4 linked regions of the Homo sapiens genome follow. The protein of the gene in region 1 interacts with the protein of each later gene in a biochemical or structural test. Each region holds a gene or a part of one and is shown in the gene's direction. Other genes may lie near its edges.

Region 1 (5,005 bases):
AAAAGTAGTCCTTACCTCTAAAAAGAGCACATGTTCTTTTCTGGAGATTTCTGTGTTGAAAAACTTGGAAACAGATTAGGAAAATAATCCGGACCTAGTTTTTGATAGTCTTTTATAAAGATGTCTAGTGAAGGAAAGAGATGATTTTTCATTTTGATATTTAAGTAGTATCTTAGATAAATCCTTTGATCCACTTGTATTTGCTAGTTATTTCATCTAATTTTCCTGGAATGGTTGCTTACTTGCAGAGGGTCTTACAGACGTCATTTTATACCACCAACCGGATGACAAGAAAAAAAACAGAGGCTTTTGCTTTCTTGAATATGAAGATCACAAAACAGCTGCCCAGGCAAGGCGTAGGTTAATGAGTGGTAAAGTCAAGGTCTGGGGGAATGTTGGAACTGTTGAATGGGCTGATCCTATAGAAGATCCTGATCCTGAGGTTATGGCAAAGGTAATGATAGTCAAGTTAAAAATATTTTTTGAGGGATTAATGGGAGAAGGGCCGGGGTTGGGGTGGGGGGAACATAAAATGAACAGTATACATTTTTTTATTTTTTGAGACAAGAGTCTCTTGTTTCCCATGTTTCCCAGGCTGGAGTGCCATGGTGCCATCTTGGTTCACTGCAACCTCCGCCTCCCGGGTTCAAGTGATTCTCCTGCCTCCCAAGTAGCTGGAATTACAGGCTCCCACCACCACACCTGGCTAATTTTTGTGTTTTTTTTAGTAGAGCTGGGGTTTCACCATGTTGGTCAGACTGGTCTCGAACTCCTGACCTCGGGATCCACCTACCTCGGCCTTCCAAAGTGCTGGGATTTAGAGGCGTGAGGCTATTGCACCTGGCCCTGGACACATTTTTTTTTAAACCATATTTTTAGAGTTGGGAGAAATGTTCTTTACTACGGGACTAGGCAGTGCGCACTGGAAATACCATGTGCCTGCAAAGTGAAAATAGAAATTGATGCGTGGATACTTAGCCATAATTGTATAGCCATCACAATCTTGTAATGAAGTCGCCTACATGCTGTAGACAGTTGACTTCCATTTTGTGTGTTTTTTAAGAGCAATTTGAGTTTTTGAGAATGGCACCATTAGTTTACATGGTTTTGGGGTTAAAAGTCTTACTACTAAAAACAGTAAATTATACTGGCCGCAGCAGAGGTGCTTGCAGTTACATTTAGCCATTATTAGGTATCCTGACTTCAGCAGTCAGTGGAGACATTGTATAAGAATAAACATCCCTTGAGTCAACACTTTATTACACACTGGTGCAGTAATTTGCAGTTATTTGTTCTATCCTTTGTTCTCTTTTTTTTTTTTTTTTTTTAAGTGACAGGGTCTAGATCTGTGGCCCAGGGCTAGAGTTCAGGGGCATGATCATAGCTGACTGTAGCCCCAAGCTCAAGAGATCTTCTCACCTCAGCCTCCCAAGTAGCTAGAACTACAGGTGTGTACTACCACACCTGGCTAATTTTTTTAAAAAATTTTGTAGAGGCAGAGTTAATCTCCCTGTGCTGCCCAGGCCGGTCTTACAATTCTTAGCCTTAAGCAATCCTGCTTCCCAAAATGCTGGGATTACAGGCATGAGCCACCATGCCCCAGTTATCCTTTGTCTTTTAAGAATTCCCTCTTTGTTACTTACAGGTTAGGTGTCAGACACCACTAGTTGAGTTAAATTGAGGGTAATATGAACTGCCAGGGAGCTATGAATATTATTGAAGGATAAGTGGTCTTAGAGAAGAGAAAATAGTTAGGATTCATTTTTCCTCTGGCCTATAAATTCTCATTGGGTTAGCACTTTAGATTAACACATTCAGATGGTATTCAAGTTATTTTAGGAGGAAGTGATAATGTTAGTGAAGAGGTTAAATTTTGTAATTTTACTTTGAGAAGCTTTCAGGATTGAGAACAGTTTGTCTTACTAATATTTTGAACAGTCCTTCCCCCTTTAAGATTTCAAAAGCAGGTCCTAATTAGTTTTGGCCACTCTTGTTAAGTGTTAAACATTCAATAACTCTCTTAGAGGGCATGGTATTTACTTTGTTAGGAAAAATTATCTTTTTTATTGCAAAATAATTACTAATTGGTAATTATTACTGATGTAGCCTGTAGTCTGCATTTTCTTTTTCATAGACTTCATTAGAGCAGTTTTAGGTTTACAGCAGAAAGCACAGAATTGCCATATGACTTCTGCCCCCTACACAGGCACAGCCTTCCTCACTACCAGTATCCTGCACTGGAATAGTACATTTGTTAAAATTGATGGACGTAGATTGATTACCTAAAGTCCATAGTTTACATGAGGTCTCACTCTAGATGTATGTTCTGTGGGTTTGGAGAAATGTATAACCGTGTTTCCATCATAGTATTATACAGAATAGTTTCACTGCCCTAAAAATCCTCTGTCCTGTGCTTAGTCATCCCTCCCCATTCAACCACTGGCAGTCACTGTCTCCATAGTTTTGCCTTCTCAGAATGTTACATAGTTGGAACCATACATTATGTAACCTTCACATTGGCTTCTTTCTCTTAGTAATACATATTTAAAGTTCTTCTATGTCATTTTGTGGCTTTTAACTAGTTTCTATCAGTTATAATATTCCTTCTGTATGTGCCACAATTGTCCATTCTCCCATTGAAGAACATCTTGGTTTCTTCCAATTTTTGGAAATTTTTTTGTTTTTCTTTTGAGACAGAGTCTCGCTGTGTTACCCAGGATGGAGTGCAGTGGCACGATCTCGGCTTACTGCAACCTCTGCCTCTTGGGTTCAACCATTTCTCATGCTTCAGCCTCCCGAGTAGCTGGAACCATAGTTGCGTACCATCGCACCCGGCTAATCTTTGTATTTTTGTAGAGACGGGGTGTTACTGTGTTGGCCAGGCTGGTCTCGAGCTCCTGACCTCAGGTGATCTGCCCGCCTCAGCCTCCCAAATTGCTGGGATTACGGGTGTGAGCCACTGCGTCTGGCAAATTTTTGGCAGTTACAAATAAAGCTGCTATTAACATCTCTCTCTAAGTTTTTGTGTGCATGTAAGTTTTCAACTCTGGGTAAATAAGGAGCAGGATTGCTGGGTCATATGGAAGTGTGTGTTTAGTTTTGTAAGAAATCGCCAAACTGTCTTTCAAAGGGGCTATACCCTTTTGCATTCCCACCAGCAATGAATGAGAGTTTCTATTGCTCTGCATTCTTACCTGCATTTATAGTGTGTTGGATTTTGGCCATTCTAATAGTTTTGACTTGCGGTTTCCGAATGACAGATTATATTGAGCATCTTCATGAGATTCTTTGCCATCTGTATATCTTTTTTGGCAAAGCATCTATTTCAGGTCTTTCAACATGATCCAGCAGTTCTGCTGCTTGATATTTACCCAAGGAGTTGAAAACTTTTTTTTTTTTTATATTCTGACATTCTTCTAATGGATTGTGATTTGAGTTAACTTTGTAGGGTGGGGTGGTGGTATCTTAGAAATGGAACTCTTTGGAAATAATACAGGGGGGTATTTTCTTCCCCCTAGGTAAAAGTGCTGTTTGTACGCAACCTTGCCAATACTGTAACAGAAGAGATTTTAGAAAAGGCATTTAGTCAGTTTGGGAAACTGGAACGAGTGAAGAAGTTAAAAGATTATGCGTTCATTCATTTTGATGAGCGAGATGGTGCTGTCAAGGTAAATATGGTGGAATTACAGGCATCTAAATCAGACTAACAAATTTAGTCATTTTAGAATCTCAAAATAGTTTTACAAATTGGAGGAGACTTTGGAAGTCCATGGAATCCATTCAAACTAAAACCTTTTGGTTTTAGTGATGTTGGCAGTTTTCTAAGTAAAAATGAAAAATAATTGAATATCTGCATCTTTAAATAAAATTATTTGACTGCCTGCATGGGGCTTTCTCTTGTCCTTCCCACATTAATGATAAATGATATTCCAACTTTAAATGAATCATAATTGTATGAAAGTCCTATTTTTATATTGACTTATCTAATTTTTTAAGGCTATGGAAGAAATGAATGGCAAAGACTTGGAGGGAGAAAATATTGAAATTGTTTTTGCCAAGCCACCAGATCAGAAAAGGAAAGAAAGAAAAGCTCAGAGGCAAGCAGCAAAAAATCAAATGTGAGTGAAATTTGTATACTTAAAAATTGTATAAATTTTAATATTTATACACTAATTGGAAAATAACAGGTGTTGATCAGACTTGTTAAATGCATAACATCTCTTTAAAGAAGACTTGAACGTTTGAGAGTCATAGGGAAACACCAGTGATCTAAGTGTTTATTGAACTCTTACTATGAACCATATTTGTGAAAATAATCAGAATTGTAAATAACTGGAATTTTGGTAAATTGGCAAGATGAAAAATCTGTCTAGCTTTTTTTTTGTTTTGTATTGGGTGACAGAGTCTCACTTTGTCACTCAGGCTGGAGTGCAGTGGCACTCTTTCGGCTCACTGGAACCTCCACCTCCCGGGTTCAAGAGATTCTCCTGCCTCAGTCTTCTGAGTAGCTGGGTTACAGGCGCCACCATGCCTGGTAATTTTTGTGTTTTTTTTTTTAGTAGGGGTGGGGTTTCGTCATGTTGGCCAGGTTGGTCTCAAACTCCTGACCTCAGGTGATCCGCCCACCTCTGCCTCCCAAAGTGCTGGGATTACAGCTGTGAGCCACCATGCCTGGCCTATCTCACATATTTTCTTTGTATTTTACAGAATGTTCTTCTGAAAATGTCTTAAATATTAGCTGTCCAAATATCTTAATACATTTTGTTAAAGGGTGGAGAGTTTTTTCTCTGAGAGATAGGAAATACTAAATCTCTATTCATGATAGACTGTTTCTTCACCAGTAGTGCTCATTGCCACCCCAAAAATTTCATGTTCGATGGATGGATTTTGAAAATGAAATGAGTATTAAAATTATAACACAGTAGTGCAATAAGAAAACAAGTAGGTGTGTAATGAGTTATACTAATTAGGGAGACCTTTTTAGAGAATCTGTAAATAGGTATCT
Region 2 (5,005 bases), on another chromosome or scaffold:
TGACAGGGCTGTCTATGATACTGCAGAGACCTGGGGGTGGGCTTTGGAGGTGGCTGGAGAAGCCTCTTCCTTGCCCTTCTCAAGCCCTGGGGACCAGGCTACCCCAGTGTTCCCCAGCCCCTAGGCAAGCCTGACCTCTAGTCATTCTTTCTGCCTCCATCTGAACATTATCATATCTCAATGGGGTCTCCTTTTTCTTCCCCGCCAGGCCTGTGCCGCCCTCTCAGGGGAGAGTAGATAGAGGGGCAGTGAGTGCACTGGAAGCAGGGGGACAGAAGGCAGTGAGGACAGAGTGGGAGGAGGTTGGGCTTCATTTGCCTGGAAGAATGACCATCATTCCCTTCCCTGGACAGAAGCATCCTCGTGGAGGACTTAAGGCTGCAGATGAGTAGAAACACTACTTCACTTGGCTTTGGGATTTGCTCTGTGGACTTCCCCAGTCTAGGCAGGTCCTAGCTGAAGCCAGAGTATCCCCACCACTGAAGGTCCAGGGTGGTGGGGATACTCTTTAAGAACTGGAACAGCAAGTCAGAGGGAGTAATGGGGGGGCAGGGTCACTCAGTGCAGTGGTTAAATATGAAGCACCAAAGAATGGAGGCTAGGAGATAGACAGGCCTGGGTTCAAATCCCAGGGCTGCTAAGTACAAAGTCTGACATTTGCAACAAGTATTTTATTAGTGAGTACCTACCATGTGCCACTATTGTAGTCTCTCTGGGTGGGGAGGTGAGCACAGCCGCAGGCCCTACACATGTTACTGAGCCACTCAGCATCCCTTCTGCATTCGTTCCACTATTGCATTTTGAGAATCTGTGCTAGGCAATGGAGATTCAGGTGGGAACAAAACAGACCTGTTTCCTGCCCTCGTGGCATTTACAATCTAGTGAATACCACACAATTAGATAATTACATAAAGAATTCATCATGACTGTGCCAAGAGTTATGAAGGTATGTAGGAAGCTTCGAGAGCATGTAACAGGATGATCTGACAATGTCTGCACAGTTTTCTCTAAAGAACAGAGGTAATAATGCTTAACTCTCAGGGTAGTATTGTAGAACTGATAACTATTCGTGTTATTTTAGAAGTAGCCCCTGGACCACCAGACAGATGCAGTTCTAAATTCCCTACGTGAATAATCCATCCATAGGCAACAAGTTGATTCTTCATCTTCCACTCAGTCAGAGAAGCCAGGCCAGAGAAGCTGGGATTCAGTTATGGCTTCTCCTGGACTCCAGAAGCCTGTGATAAATAATATAGTTTCATTGGAGAAACATCAAGTCAGAGATTTTTTTCTAAGTGGCAGTATAGTGACTACAGCCAGATTGCCAGGGTTCATCCTGGTTCTGCCACTTGCTGTGATTTTGGGCGAGTCAATCACACTCTGTTTTTTAGTCTTGCCATCTGTAGAATGGAGCTAAAATTTGTAACTATGACGTAGATTGTTCTTGGTGAGGATGAAATGGGTTAATTCCTGTAAAGCGTGTAGAACAGTGCCTGGCGCGGGAGGAGTAAGTGCTTTTCATCCTTGGGTGGCCTGCGTGCTCCTTTTCCTGCCCACACACACAACACTGTCTTGGGTTCTCCAGCTGCAGGGAGCACTGTCCACCTTTGATATTCTTAAAACTCAAGGGAAGGAGTTGCCCTCACCGTCTTGGTGGTCAGTCCTGCATTTCATCCCCCTCACTCGAAGACGGTTTTTATGCCTAATGAGTCTTTTCTTGCCAAAGCTTGATTTCTGGGAAGGATTTGTCCCAGCAATCCTTCATTTTCATCTCTGGAACTGACAGTTCAAGGAAGTAGCCAGAGTGATGGGTAAATTTGGATCCAGGCCCAGAGGGACCTGAGAGTCACTGTGAGCCTGGAGGGCAGGGGAACACCTAGCTGCCAGCCCCCTCCCCTAGAGAGGCTGGGTCTAAAATTAAACATCCAGAAGGACTCCCCAGGCCAGGTGCAGTGGCTCACACCTGTAATCCCAGCGCTTTGGGAGGCTGAGGTAGAAGGATCGCTTGAGCCCAGGAATTCCAGAGCAGGCTGGGCAACATATGGAGACCCTGTCTCTACAAAAAATTTAAAAATTAGCTGGGCATGGTGGCACACCAGGTTAAGCAGGAGGATCGCCTGAGCCCAGGAGGTCGAGACTGCAGTGAGCTATGGTCATGCCACTTCACTTCAGCCTGGAAAACAGTGAGATCCGGTCTCAAAAAAAAAAAAAGGACTCCCAAAATCCAAGATGAGCAGTAGATATTGTAGAAGCTTCCTCCCTGGATCATTTTCTGATGAGGATAAAGTCCCTGCTGGCTGAGTGCCAGGGAGGAGGTTAGATTCTGAAAGCCCCTCACACTTAGGGAAGTAGGATGTGAGTAGCAGGGTCCATTAAAATGGCCAAGCAGCCTCCAAATCTGAAAGAAAGGGGGGTTACCTGCTGCTGTAAAGTCAGGAGAGGCCCTTCCTTGGTCACTTTAGCCGGGGACCTCAGGATTTCAGCTTTTGCTGTCAGTAACACTAAGCATCAGGCATAAGAAAGGGCAAAGTCAGTGTGGGTCCCGCACAACAGGGAACCTCAGGGCTCCTCCCTGCGCCTCCTGCTCCCCTGCTCGGGGATAGAGCGGCTCACAAGGGCGGTCAAGCTCTCATCACTGCAGTCCTCGGCTACGCCATCGCTGTCCCCACTTTACAATGAACGGGCAAAGGCCCAGAGAAGTTGTGTGGTTCAAAATCCCCAGAGAAGTTGTGTGGTTGTTCAAAATCCCCAGATCATAGGCACTTTGCAGGGGGCCTTCCAGGCCACAGCAGCTGAGTGGTCAGAACCCTTCCTCCTCTCCTCGCCGCTTCTCACCAGCTCTACCTATGGCAAATGGAGCCCGAGAATACAGGTGCGGGTCCTTGGGATGAGGCCACTAACGCGTTGAGTAGAAGCAGGAGGCTGGGTGATTTAAATCAGGCAGCAGCCTTTACAAAAATTAGGCAGTGATTCCTTGGAGGAATTGAATCAGCTCTCCCTCCCTGATGTTGGGTTTCCTTGGGCTCTCCATAAGGGCTCTGGCACCTCCTTCAGGAACACCTGCTCTGAAGCAAGGAGGGAGGCCCCAGGGTGGGCAGTCTTGAGTGCATGATGGGACACCCCGCTGAATCCAGAGCTGCTCCAGCCTCAGCAGCCCTATCTGTGATGGCATGCTGATGTCATCAGCACCAAAAGCCCTTGCAGGTTTCAACTCGGCAATTAAACGGCTCCTCTGAAGCCCAGCAGCCGTGTGTGTGTGCATATGTGTGTATTCAGGGTCCTAGGGGTGGGCTGGGGAGGAGGGCCCCTTGCAAAGGCAGGGAGAATGGGAGTTAGTGGGTGTGTGACTGCTTCTCTCCTTCGGAGACTCCAGACCTGAGAAGTCAGATCCCTATGGGACTCACAGCCCAAAAGTCAACCCTTGCGTGCAGGTGTAGCCAGAGTCTAAACTCAGCCTGAGCCAGAGCACCCCATTCCTTCCTTACTTCCTACTTTCCTCCCGCCTTTTCCTCCACGTTCCACTCCAATGCACTAAGCACCTACTCTGTAAAAGGCACCTGGGATGTAAAGGAGAACTCAAAATAACCGTGTCTCCTCTATCAGCCTGGGCGCTCCCCAAGGCCAGGGCATGTTGTTTCTCCTCCTCTCCTGGGTCCCCCTAGCCCCCAAAGTGGAGTTCTGAAGCTGGGAGCATTGATGGTGGCTGGTGCAGAGTGACAGGGCTCCCAGATGCTCTCCAACCCCAGGATAGTCGCCTGTCAACACAAGGCTTTCCTCAATCACAAAGCTTGCTTCACTTCCTCCCATCCCCTGCAGAGAAACTAGAAGCCCAAGGGCCTCATCACTGGACAGTCTGGGACCAGGGGAGGACAGCAGCTGGGTGGGGAGTCAGGAAAGCTCCCCCGAGGCATTTGTCAGGTGCCTCTCAGTAAGGCAGGGAGTCCTCAGACCATGGAGAACTCTGGCAGGACTTGCCATAATTGGGTTGATACAGTGGCTCTGGAATTTAGTAATTAGGAAATATTGCAATTAGAGACGGAATTTACCCATTACTATTCCATGCATCTTAATACAGGGTGTAAGTGGTTGTAACTGTGAGCTTGGCACTAGGCATATGGGAAAATAGAAGTGAATGGAGAAATGGGATGAAGGAAGGAGGGGATGGGAGGAGCTTAACCCTTTCCATACCCGAGTAGACTGAAGGAGCAGCCTGGGGGTGATGCAGGGTTAGGGCGAGCCCAGCAGCCCACCGCATTTGTAAGAGGTGACCGAGGCAAAAATCACAGGCTCCCTCCGGACCTTCTGCTTCTTTAGCTCAGGTAGGATCAGATGCAGGGCTTGGCAGGGGTTAGGAGAGTGGTGATGGAGGCCAAGAGGGAGAGGCTGCAGGGGAGAAGGGCTCTTCTCCCAGTTTCCTGCTCAGCTGTGGAGAAACAGAAAAGAGTTGTAACCACCTGCAGTAGTGTGCATGTGAGAGACAGGAGAGGGTACCTTGTACCTTCATCTCTCCCTCCCCACTTGTTCCTTCCCCCGCCCTTCTTTTTACTCCCTTCCTCACTCCTACTCTTAGCTCCATTTTCCTCTGAAGTCAAATGAGGCATTTGTGGTATTGCAGGGCTGAGCTGGGTAGGGCCATGTGTATGGGCGGCGGAGGGAGGGGAGCGGTGGCCGGGGGTGGGAGGGTGGTAGCGTCAAAGAGGTGGTGCTCATTTTTTCCTTTCCAGACCAGAAATGCCTTCCCCAAGGTCAGCCAGTGCTCTGAGCTCCAAAGACCTTCCCAGAGAACCTCTGCTCCCTAAGGGCTGGGTGGTTTGAGAGAAATCTCTTTTCCTCACCATTGATTCCAGTCTGAACTAATGATCCAGATGTGTTGTGCATGTCCTTCCTCTTCTACAAAGTGACTCGGGAAGCAGTTTTTATGCTATTTGTAGAAAGGAAGCATTTTCTGGAGCGGGGCCTTCTCTGCTTCTGCTACACCTTAACTCCCTAGATTAGAGGAGAGCTG
Region 3 (5,005 bases), on another chromosome or scaffold:
CATTTCCCTCCTTCCTTGCCTTGCCGACATTAATTCTTACATCAGATGCATTTGTCTTCATCCCTCTGAAGCAAGAGTGTCTTTAATCTCGGAACCCTAAAAGCTGAGTAGTAGAAAAGCTGCACCACACAACGCCGTGTGAATAATGTCCCTGCTGTTGATAGTGTGAACCAGAACAACCATGCACAGCAGCCCTGAGACATGGGTTCCTAGAGAGAGTCATCTCGGTAAATGGATGACTTCTTTTTCTGGAAAGGAATCCACCTGAATGCCATGTCCCAGCTTTCTCTGTTATTGTCCATTCACGGCCACCCTGTGATAGCTAGGTTTTCTCAAGCTGAACTAAGGACTTTGGTTATAAAAGGAGAAAAAAGATATAATTTCCTGTGGACAGCAAAGTGACCCTGCATCTAGGAAATTTACTCATTTTTTCAGAGGTGTGGAAAGACTAGGGCACAGACCAGCGGGCCTGAGCCATCAGAAAGGTTCTTTTTTGTCCAGGTAGTTATAGTGCCCTGTTGGGGGAGTACCGCACCCAGATTTCCCTGACTTGGTGTTCACAGAGGACTTGATGCAATTGTGGTTTAAAAAAATAAGCCTAAGTCACAGTTGGAACTGAAGTGCCTCACCCAGTCTGTCATCTGTACCAACTTGTGGAAAGGAAAGTGCTGAGTGTGAGCACTTTTGTCCATAGAAAGCAATTAGAATGCTCTGTTGGTTGCCTTTATGGTGTTTTATATGTTAATGATGTGGGACATAAACTTGCAGGCCTCAGAGACTAGCCTTTAAGGCAGAGGGAACAGCAAGCGCAAAGGCCCTGAAGTGGTAGCATTATTGATATGATTCTAGAAATGGTGACTTCAGAGGTGGCTGGAGAGGTGTGAAACAGATGGAGAGTGATAAGACGTGTATGGTCAAGAGTTAGAGAGGGTGGATCATGCAGAGTCTTGTAAACCATTATAAAGACTTTGGTTTTTACTCTGAATGAGATAGGAAGCCATTAGAAGGTGCTGAGCAGAGAAGTGACAACACTTTGACTGCTATGTTGAAGAGCAAAGGTGAAGTCAGAGAAACCACTTAGGAAGCTATTTCAGAAATCCAGACAGAGGTGATAGTGACTTCAACAGGGATAGTGGTAATGGAGGTGATGAGAAGTAATTGGATTATGAATGCAATTTGCAGGTACAGCCGCAAGTATTTATTGAAGGAAGAGATGTGAAAGGTGAGAGAAGGGCAATTAAGGATGCTTCAAAGGCTTTTTGACCTAAAAAATTCCATGTACAAGTAGAAGTCTTCAGGAAGAAGGTAGGGGTGAGGAGGGAAATCATGAGGTTTATTTTTTATTTTATTTTAACTTTTTGTAACACATTAAGTGTGTGATGCCTCTTTAGATAGCCAAGCTGTTTTACAGTTGAACAGTGACCTGAGGTATGACTATCCTCTTTAATGTCAATTGCTCTATGCTCGTATTTTTTAACTGGAGACTTCGCTGTCAAGAAGATTAATTGGTTATAGAACAGTATGTATTGTTAGAAGGTTTTCCTTGTAGGGAATTAAAAGGTCTCTTAAATTTCTACCCATGGATCTTGATTATACTTTTTTTGGTCAAAAAGCATTAGTCTTATCTCTCTTCTCCATCATACACCTTTGGCTATTAGGAGGTAAACTAGCCTAACTTATCTAGATCCACTCTTTCCAAGGAACAGAAAGGAGGATTGGATCATGTAATGACTAGGTCTTAAACATGTTTTTATCATTTTCTTTTTAAGTCTTTTCTTCTGTAGGGTGCCAACCATGTCTGTGCCAAGCACTTTATGTAGGTCATTTCACTAGTCCTCACAAGTCTTTTAAGCACTTATCTGTGTTCCAGCAGCAGCAGCAGCTGCTGGGAGCTTGTTAGAATTGGAGATCTCAGTTATGTCCCAGACCCACTGAATATGAATCTGTATATTAACAGGATCCTCAGGTGAGAGTTGTAGGCACATTAAAGTTCAAGAACCATGGCTAAAAGTGATTGATATATATGAGTAAACTGAAGTCCAGAGAAGTAAACTAGCCCAGGGCCATGGAGTCCATTTAAAAGAAGAATTGGGTCTAAGTGAAAGTAGCTTCTTAGGTAGTCACATCACATGTACTGAAAACTGAGGAGTTATTGTCAATGAAAATTTTCTAGGTGTTTTTCATAAGAGCCACCCTTAGACCTACTTTCTCTCTTCTGTACTTGTATGATGGATTTAATCCCTAAGTGTAGGTCACATTCTATGTAGTTGTAAAGATTCAGCTTAGTATTTTTGATTATGAATTCTGTTATCCAGGATACTGGTTTTCCATTCATGTTCCAACTCCATATTCTGGAGATTTTTCTGCATGTTCTCTGTGTCTGTACCCAATGTTTAGAAAAGGTTCAGCAGGTCAGAGTATGAAGCAGAGCCTTAAGACTCATGATTAGTGATTCTTCTCTCCATGTAAATATTACTCTATTCAAGAAAAGCTTTTTCTAGGTCATGGTTTTCAACTTTGGCTGCACATTAGGAATACTTAGGGAGCTGGAACAAACAAACAAAGAAAAAACAAACAACAGCAACAACAAAAACTACCAATGACTGGGCTGCACCCTAGACCAGTTTTAAATCACAGTCTCTGGGAAATGGGCCTGGTATCAGTATTTTTAAAGTTCATCTATTGATTCTAATGTGCAGCCAAGTAGAGAACAACCTTTGAGACCATTGGGCAAAGAATGCATCCGCCTAACCCTTCTCAGCTCAGCTCACATTTGTTTCTTGCAAAATTAGGAAAGATAGTATCAAAAACTAGGAACCTTGACTGTTACCCTGTACAGCTAGTGCCCATATCAACTGATTCTTAACTTTCTTTTCCCAACGTTATCCTACATTTTTCTTTTAAGGGCTCATTGAACATATCATAAGGCTCTATTATGTCCACCAATCTGAGAGGGGAAAAAACAAACAAATCAAGAAAAATCTTGTCTAAATAGTGTGTCATTAAAAGGTCAGAATATAGAACCTTCACAAATGTCACCCTATGTTAAATTATAATGAAGTCACTTATTAGAAAATGTACATGTAAAATAATAATTAAATATAGTTTCTATGAAAAAAATCTCCAAAATAATCATCAAGATTAAATATTAGCCTTGATTCAAATTTTTCTAAGGTAGTCAAAAGAGAATCAGTCTTGAAACACTGGATGTTTATGAATAGACCTTGGTGTGATTATGCACAATGGGATTAATTTTTTTAAATTAATGTTAATTGCAATCAGGAAAAAGAGTCTTCTAAGGAATGAGTGGCATATTGGATGCACAATATGTGAAGATCTAATTTGCATTTACTTCGGTGACATTTCAGGGCTCCTTCATAAATATTTTATTTAAACAAGTGTGTTTTCATCTCTGCGGGACTCCTCTACATGGACCAGTGAGTGGTTTAGTCATGAGGTAATTATCAAGAGGGGAAAACAAAAGCAAATTGTAGTAAAGGCATCACAGGCAGCCCTATGGCCAGCTGCCTCTTTCAAAATAAACAATCAAAAGCACAAACTTTTTGATGTGGGATAAACTCTCAAGGAAAAATTAAACTGACACCTAAAGGAAATCATCCTCAAATTTTCTATTATGTATAGAGCATAGATGTTGCTTTCACTGAAGTAGCATTGAGGCACTTTTATGTTTGTGCTGCAAGTGCAATTTCCCATATGGTTGGCTTAAAAACATTCATAATCTCTTCCTAACAGGTTGACTTGAGGGAACTAACAAGTTCACACTCCAAAGTGTATAGAGAAAGTGGAGGAGCTTAGTGAGAGGCATAAATGGGGGAGCAATCTCACTTTTAAAAGGACAAGTATGGAGTATGTATTTCTATTTTCTGAATGAAGTTTGAATAAAATCACCATTTGTGGAGAAGTTTTCAGTTTTCACTGCAATCTTGGAGCAATAAATGTGCATCACGACTTCCTTTTCTTTCAAATGTTTATTTGGTGGGCTCTAGGAAGGGCTTTAGACCACATCAAATCCTGAGGACCAGGCTTTGCAGATCTCTTTGAAATCTTCATATGGCCTTGCACATGTATTTTATCACACAAAAACTTTAAATCAACATTGATAGAACTGCACTTGAAAGAAAAAAAAATCTTCTAGGACATCAAGATGACAAAGTGGAATAAGCAAGGACTTTGGAGTTAGAATCTGACTGCACTTACTACCTTAGTGACCTTGAGTAAAATATTTAACTCTTCATTTTATTCATCTATAAAATGGGAGTGGAAGATTGCTGTAACATTGTGCCCAGAGTAAATGCTCAAATAAATGATCAATAAATTGATGTTGTTGGTAGTATCACCTGCCCATGTTTCCTTTCAGCCGTGGTCCACAAACATGTATATGTTTTACCATTTGTAATTATTTGTAGGCTAAATTTACTTTCTACTTTTTTGTAAACTTAGCATTTTATTACCTCTTATTAGCTGTGTGTTCCTGGACAAGTTATTTAACCTCTGTGTCCTCATTTTCTCATCAGTAAAATGTATTACTAGTATCTGGGTTACTAGTTACCCAGATAAAATACAGGCTGCCAGTTCAATTTGAATTTCAGATAAACGACAGGGAATATTGCATGGCACATAATTATACAAAACAATCATCTGTTGTTTATCTGAAATTGAAGTAGAACTGGGCATCCTATATTTTTATTTGTGATGCTGACAACCCTATACTAGTACCTATCTCGCAATGCATGCGAAATACCATAGTACCTGGTATATGCTCATAGTAATTACACGTAGTAAATGCTCAATAAATACTAGCCATTATTTCTATTATTATAATTTTCCCATTGTTAACACTTATTAGTACGTAATTATTATTGTTGTGATGACTATGTATATTCCAAGAATGGGTATACCTTTTTTATTTAACCATTCTTTTGAGGCTATTCTAGCTTGTAATTTTTTTTTAGTGTGAATAATGTCTTGTATTTATAGTCCCCTG
Region 4 (5,591 bases), on another chromosome or scaffold:
GTTACTTAGTCCACAATAGCATTAGCTCTGGGCAAGAGGTAATCTTATCACGATGTTTCCTCAGATGTCAGACAGCAAAGGATGGGGTGGGTTCCGTAGAAATAGAGTTTAAACAATCTGTACAGTTTACAGATAACAACATTATACCATCTGAAGGTAAAATTAATGAGATACTAATTTATAGAACAAACACATAAGGTATTTATGTTTACAACAAATGAGCTTAAACATATGTTAGCAATAACTTAGCTAGAAAATATATACTTTAGTAAACATCACACCATGTATTTGGTCCACCTATGATATGCATCACAAATAAATGCCACTTATTCTTTAACCTAATGGATATTTGTTTCTAGGGACAACCCTACAGGGTGCATGCATGCATAATTAAGGAAATAGGTAATCTGAATAAAGTGAAATGATAAAGACACAACCACAGACTCTGCCAGCAGAAAAATTAAATACAGCAAATTAGTTTGTGTGTTTTCAAAGCATGAAGATATAAAGTTTAAAAAAATCTGTTAGAGGAACACTCCAATGCCAAGTATGTGGGAGCAAATAGAATAGCAAAGAAAAAAGACTGGTTTATAAAATTTTCCATGATGCAAAGAACTGAAGCCAATTTCTCCCCAGACAGAGCCCTGATGCTCTGGGCTGCTGCTAGCCAATGTGCAGGGACCTGTCACTTGCACAGTAGCTTTCTGAGACTCACCCTGTATCCCTTCTCCCACATCCCAGCACACACTGAATGCCATTTCCTTATTAACTCCAGAGCAAAGAAATTCTTTGCAGAGCAATAATTGACAGTTGGAGTTACAGCTTGACTTCTTTCCTTTGAAAAATTGCTAAGCATTTGTTTTAGAAAGGCACACTCTTCAGATTCCAATGAATCAGAATCCGACACCATATTTTTCACAGTTTTTCACCTCCGAGAATATCATCAGTTTAGAAAAAGGAATGCTTTCCTTTGAAATAACCAATGTTACCAATGTTACTTTAGATGTTGGCCTGATTTTGGAAACTATTTTGTACAAACGTACTAGAAGTCAGGCCTTTTAACCATAAATGTCATTTCAGAAGCGCCTTATTATTTGCAAAAGTCATAACTGAGAGTGACTCTGAATATCCAAGGAATTATCCCCATCTGTTCCTAAGTGCTTTAACTGGTCAAATGTCAGATATTAAAGGGAAGAGAGCTGAGAGACCAGGAAAGATCAACTGTTCCAGCAAAATATTTAGACTAATAATTTATTAGAACATAAAGGATTATACTGGGAAAACTATCTTATATCAAATGCATCAATTTGTAGTGAATCTTTTCTAAATGTAATAAGTATCATAGGTATAACATGTCAAAGAAAAAAATTAAAAAGCAAGAAAACATGTTTTTGCATGTTAAAAAGAGTAATTTGAAGCAGAAACTTCTCCTCTGTAAGTTACGTTATTCTGAAAACTCAGAAACATATTTTTATTCATCTAGGTGATCAGGAGATTTTATATTAGGAACTGACAGGGATCAGTTTCGGGGCTTATCTCGGTGAGCCTCTGAGCCCCCACAAAACAGCAAAGCTAATCTCTAGTGGTCCAACAGTTAAAATAATTGATGAGCATGTGTTGAATCCTCAAGAGAGGAGGGAGGAAGCAAGAAGGAAAGCTTGAAGGGAGGAGGGGAGGGGGGCAGGTGCTGATTTCAGCCCTGTAGCGTCAGGATTGCGTCAATTCGGGTTCCAGCCACGTCTGGAGTCTCGGAGACGAGCTTCTCAGAAGAGCCAAAACAGGAACCGAGGTGGCAAATCACTGTGCGAGGGCGAGTGGACCTCCCTCTTTGCCTCCTCCCTGTTCCAGGAGCTGGTGCCCTGGGCTCTGCGCTGTTGTTTTCAGCGCTCCGAAAGCCGGCGCTTGAGATCCAGGCAAGTGAATCCAGCCAGGCAGTTTTCCCTTCAGCACCTCGGACAGAACACGCAGTAAAAAATGGCTCCGATCACCACCAGCCGGGAAGAATTTGGTAAGCAAGTTACTGAACTTATGACTGCGGTTATTCCTTGAATACTCTGGGGTGGACTGTTTATTCATTTATTTTTTGCCCGGTTGTTGAATACAGATTTCCTAGGTAGTTAATTTAAAAGGAAAATGAGAATGGCAGTCAGGCAATTGTGGCTTATTTCTGCAGCTTCTCTCCCTTCCTTGGTATCTCTCTCCCTGAAACTGTCTTCTGTTAGGGAGAATTTACCTTCAGGAAGTTCTTAAATTTTCAGGTACTTCTGTAAATTGCAGCATGTACTGAGTAAAGAAAAAGGGGTCTGTTTTTCCCATGTTGGTTTCATCTATTTTGTAGGTGATTCTTATTTGTAGGTAAATCTATATTTTATTAGGAGAAGATAAATATATCTCTGGTTACATTGGGGTTTGATCTTGGTTAAAAAAAGCAACTTGTCTATTGGGGTTTGGCAATGTATATTTTATTACAGGGCGTACCATATGGGTGTTTTTCTCTGCTATGTTTTTCTTGTATCCTTGAAATATGTTGCTAGTGAAAGACAGAATCATATGGTAGCAGGGTTAAAGAGAGTTTCAAAATGAACTGGCTCAGCCCATTTCATTTCACTGCTGAGCTAACCAAAGCCCAGAGAGATGAGGGAAGTATTATAGGTTGCACAATTAGCTAAAAGCTGCTGGAAACTTGAATTAGGGCTCCAATTTTCCCGTTCAGTTTTCCTTTTCTCACACCAAGTTTTTGGTTTCAGTACATAAAATTAGACGTACTTCATAGAGTAAAAAAGTACTATTTTTAGATCTCAGTATATTCCAAAGGAAAAAGGTCAGAATTTTACTTACACGTATTTTTTAAATCATGAAATTTCATAGAAGGTTGTGAAGAGGAGTGATATCTACAGATGTGTGATAATTGTTATTAAGCTGAGTAAAATAACTATGATCTTGACTTTCAAGATTGTAAGACCTTATCAGTAGAGAATACATAGGGAGTAGATAAGTGTTTCCACGTTATAGAAAATGTTTGCCATTTGACATAACTATTCAATAGGGACAATTTGTGATATTATGTTCATAAATGAATTTCTTTCCCAGCCTTCCATTTGGGTTATTGGGTTTATTTTGGTATGACATTTATTCCCAATTCTTCATTTGAAACCTGAATGATTTTCTAATATGGAGGAATTTTTAGAGACTGTGCCAGTGAAAATATGTTCTAGCATGGACTATCAGTCTACTTTTAAAAAATGATTTTCTACTGTTTTTATTGTTTTTACATTGGCTAAAGAACTCTCTCAGTTCATGACTTTGCTTTTGCTCCCTGGCCTTGGGTTATTATGGTCCAGGAATGTGGGTGCATTTTTTTTTCACAAAGACTTGAATAGAAGGAAAAACTGAAAAGCTGATACCAAGTTTAGCTGATTATCTTTAGCTCTTGCTTTATACTGTAGTAGTCACTGTTTCTTTTTTCCACCTGGAGAAGTCAAAGGTTTATTTCATCTTTACATGATTCAGTTTCTGTACATTAAAATACAGGATTTTTATTGCGATTTTATTGGCCTTTTTATCTTCTATTTCATTTGTCTTTTCTTAACCTTACATTCTCTGAGTTCAGTTTTATAATTGTGAAGTAGATTGGCAGAAGATTTGGGGGGATGGGGAAGGGAAGTAACAAAAGACTGGATTTCTTGTGGTTATTTAGAAAAGTTTTAACCCTTTCTGGGCTGGAACTTATAACTTTATTATTTACTATTCAGGATAAAAGCATATTGCAATGGAACTAAATGTATATAATATTACATTAGTTATTTTCACTTTGATGATATTAAGCATTGACTCTATGGATTCACTATGTATAGATGTAGTAATACTGCTTTTACTTCCATAGTGTTACTAACCATTTGTTCAAGAAAGATGCTTACATATAAAATAGGATAAGCCTTATGCATAATTGATATTACCTAATGTCAGTAATTTAATGTGCCATCATTCAAGAAAATAATGACAATTTCAGTTTGATTATCATTTGCCATGCCATGTGCTAGAGGAAGAGACAGTTATAGATAAAATTGAACTCTAAATCTCACTGTTCTCATTACATGTTAAAGAATGCTGATTCACTTATAACCATTGTTCTGTTTTTATCTTATTTAAGTTTAATTAATTTATACTTTGTATAATTCAGTGTTTGACTGAGAAATTTGGGATTGTCATACAAAGGGATGATAGTGTTATAAGTTACAAAATATCGGTACCTTGTTGCTCTTCTGTTTTTGTTTTACTTTCTCTAATATATGTATATTTCTTTTACCACTGTTCCATAATTGGGATGAAAATTATTAATGAGTTTGTGGCAATGGCAAATATCATTTCACAATCAATTTCCTACAATTGAGTGAACCACTGAGTCCCTAAATGTTTGCTGCTTGAATTCTGAGTAAAGAACTACTTAGAATTCCAGTAAAAAGTGATGCTCTGGAAAGCCTCAAAATGACAATAAAAAATAATGAAGTTAGTACTGATCCATCATATTGTAGCTGTCTCATGTTATCTGAGAAAACAAAGATAGGTCAGAGTCATTAAGCATTCCCCCATATCTGATTCAGGACCATTTTCATCTTTTTATTTCATTAATGAAAAACCACTGAAATGAAGGAATTTCTAGCACACTTTATGTTTTTCCTGTGGGGATGTATTTGTACCCGAAGTTAGTGTGAAATATACACTTAACTCATACCCAGAACAGTTGGAAAGTAATTCAATCTATCCAACCTATAGCAATTGCTAGCTCTATTAGGCTTTTCAAAAGGCTCATATCTCCAGCTCTGCTTCTTTAATGTATATTATTGGTCATTTGATTTTTCAGATGAAATCCCCACAGTGGTGGGGATCTTCAGTGCATTTGGCCTGGTCTTCACAGTCTCTCTCTTTGCATGGATCTGCTGTCAGAGAAAATCATCCAAGTCTAACAAGACTCCTCCATACAAGTTTGTGCATGTGCTTAAGGGAGTTGATATTTACCCTGAAAACCTAAATAGCAAAAAGAAGTTTGGAGCAGATGATAAAAATGAAGTAAAGAATAAGCCAGCTGTGCCAAAGAATTCATTGCATCTGGATCTTGAAAAGAGAGATCTCAATGGCAATTTTCCCAAAACCAACCTCAAACCTGGCAGTCCTTCTGATCTGGAGAATGCAACCCCGAAGCTCTTTTTAGAAGGGGAAAAAGAGTCAGTTTCCCCTGAGAGTTTAAAGTCCAGCACTTCCCTTACTTCAGAAGAGAAACAAGAGAAGCTGGGAACTCTCTTCTTCTCCTTAGAATACAACTTCGAGAGAAAAGCATTTGTGGTCAATATCAAGGAAGCCCGTGGCTTGCCAGCCATGGATGAGCAGTCGATGACCTCTGACCCATATATCAAAATGACGATCCTCCCAGAGAAGAAGCATAAAGTGAAAACTAGAGTGCTGAGAAAAACCTTGGATCCAGCTTTTGATGAGACCTTTACATTCTATGGGATACCCTACACCCAAATCCAAGAATTGGCCTTGCACTTCACAATTTTGAGTTTTGACAGGTTTTCAAGAGATGATATCATTGG

Evidence for each region.
Region 2: the proteins of SYNCRIP (region 1) and SYT2 form a complex in vitro, tested with the Homo sapiens proteins (one study listed by BioGRID).
Region 3: the proteins of SYNCRIP (region 1) and SYT9 form a complex in vitro, tested with the Homo sapiens proteins (one study listed by BioGRID).
Region 4: the proteins of SYNCRIP (region 1) and SYT4 form a complex in vitro, tested with the Homo sapiens proteins (one study listed by BioGRID).

What each region holds. Positions count from the first base shown.
Region 1 is NC_000006.12:85,617,931-85,622,935, reverse strand, and holds part of SYNCRIP (heterogeneous nuclear ribonucleoprotein Q), read left to right. Parts: intron 1-248; coding exon 249-454; intron 455-3,518; coding exon 3,519-3,668; intron 3,669-3,996; coding exon 3,997-4,118; intron 4,119-5,005. UniProt on the Homo sapiens protein: Heterogenous nuclear ribonucleoprotein (hnRNP) implicated in mRNA processing mechanisms. Component of the CRD-mediated complex that promotes MYC mRNA stability.
Region 2 is NC_000001.11:202,702,929-202,707,933, reverse strand, and holds part of SYT2 (synaptotagmin-2), read left to right. Parts: intron 1-5,005. UniProt on the Homo sapiens protein: Exhibits calcium-dependent phospholipid and inositol polyphosphate binding properties. May have a regulatory role in the membrane interactions during trafficking of synaptic vesicles at the active zone of the synapse.
Region 3 is NC_000011.10:7,254,425-7,259,429, forward strand, and holds part of SYT9 (synaptotagmin-9), read left to right. Parts: intron 1-5,005. UniProt on the Homo sapiens protein: May be involved in Ca(2+)-dependent exocytosis of secretory vesicles through Ca(2+) and phospholipid binding to the C2 domain or may serve as Ca(2+) sensors in the process of vesicular trafficking and exocytosis.
Region 4 is NC_000018.10:43,273,665-43,279,255, reverse strand, and holds the start of SYT4 (synaptotagmin-4), read left to right. Parts: upstream 1-1,765; 5' UTR 1,766-1,974; coding exon 1,975-2,008; intron 2,009-4,861; coding exon 4,862-5,591. UniProt on the Homo sapiens protein: Synaptotagmin family member which does not bind Ca(2+). Involved in neuronal dense core vesicles (DCVs) mobility through its interaction with KIF1A.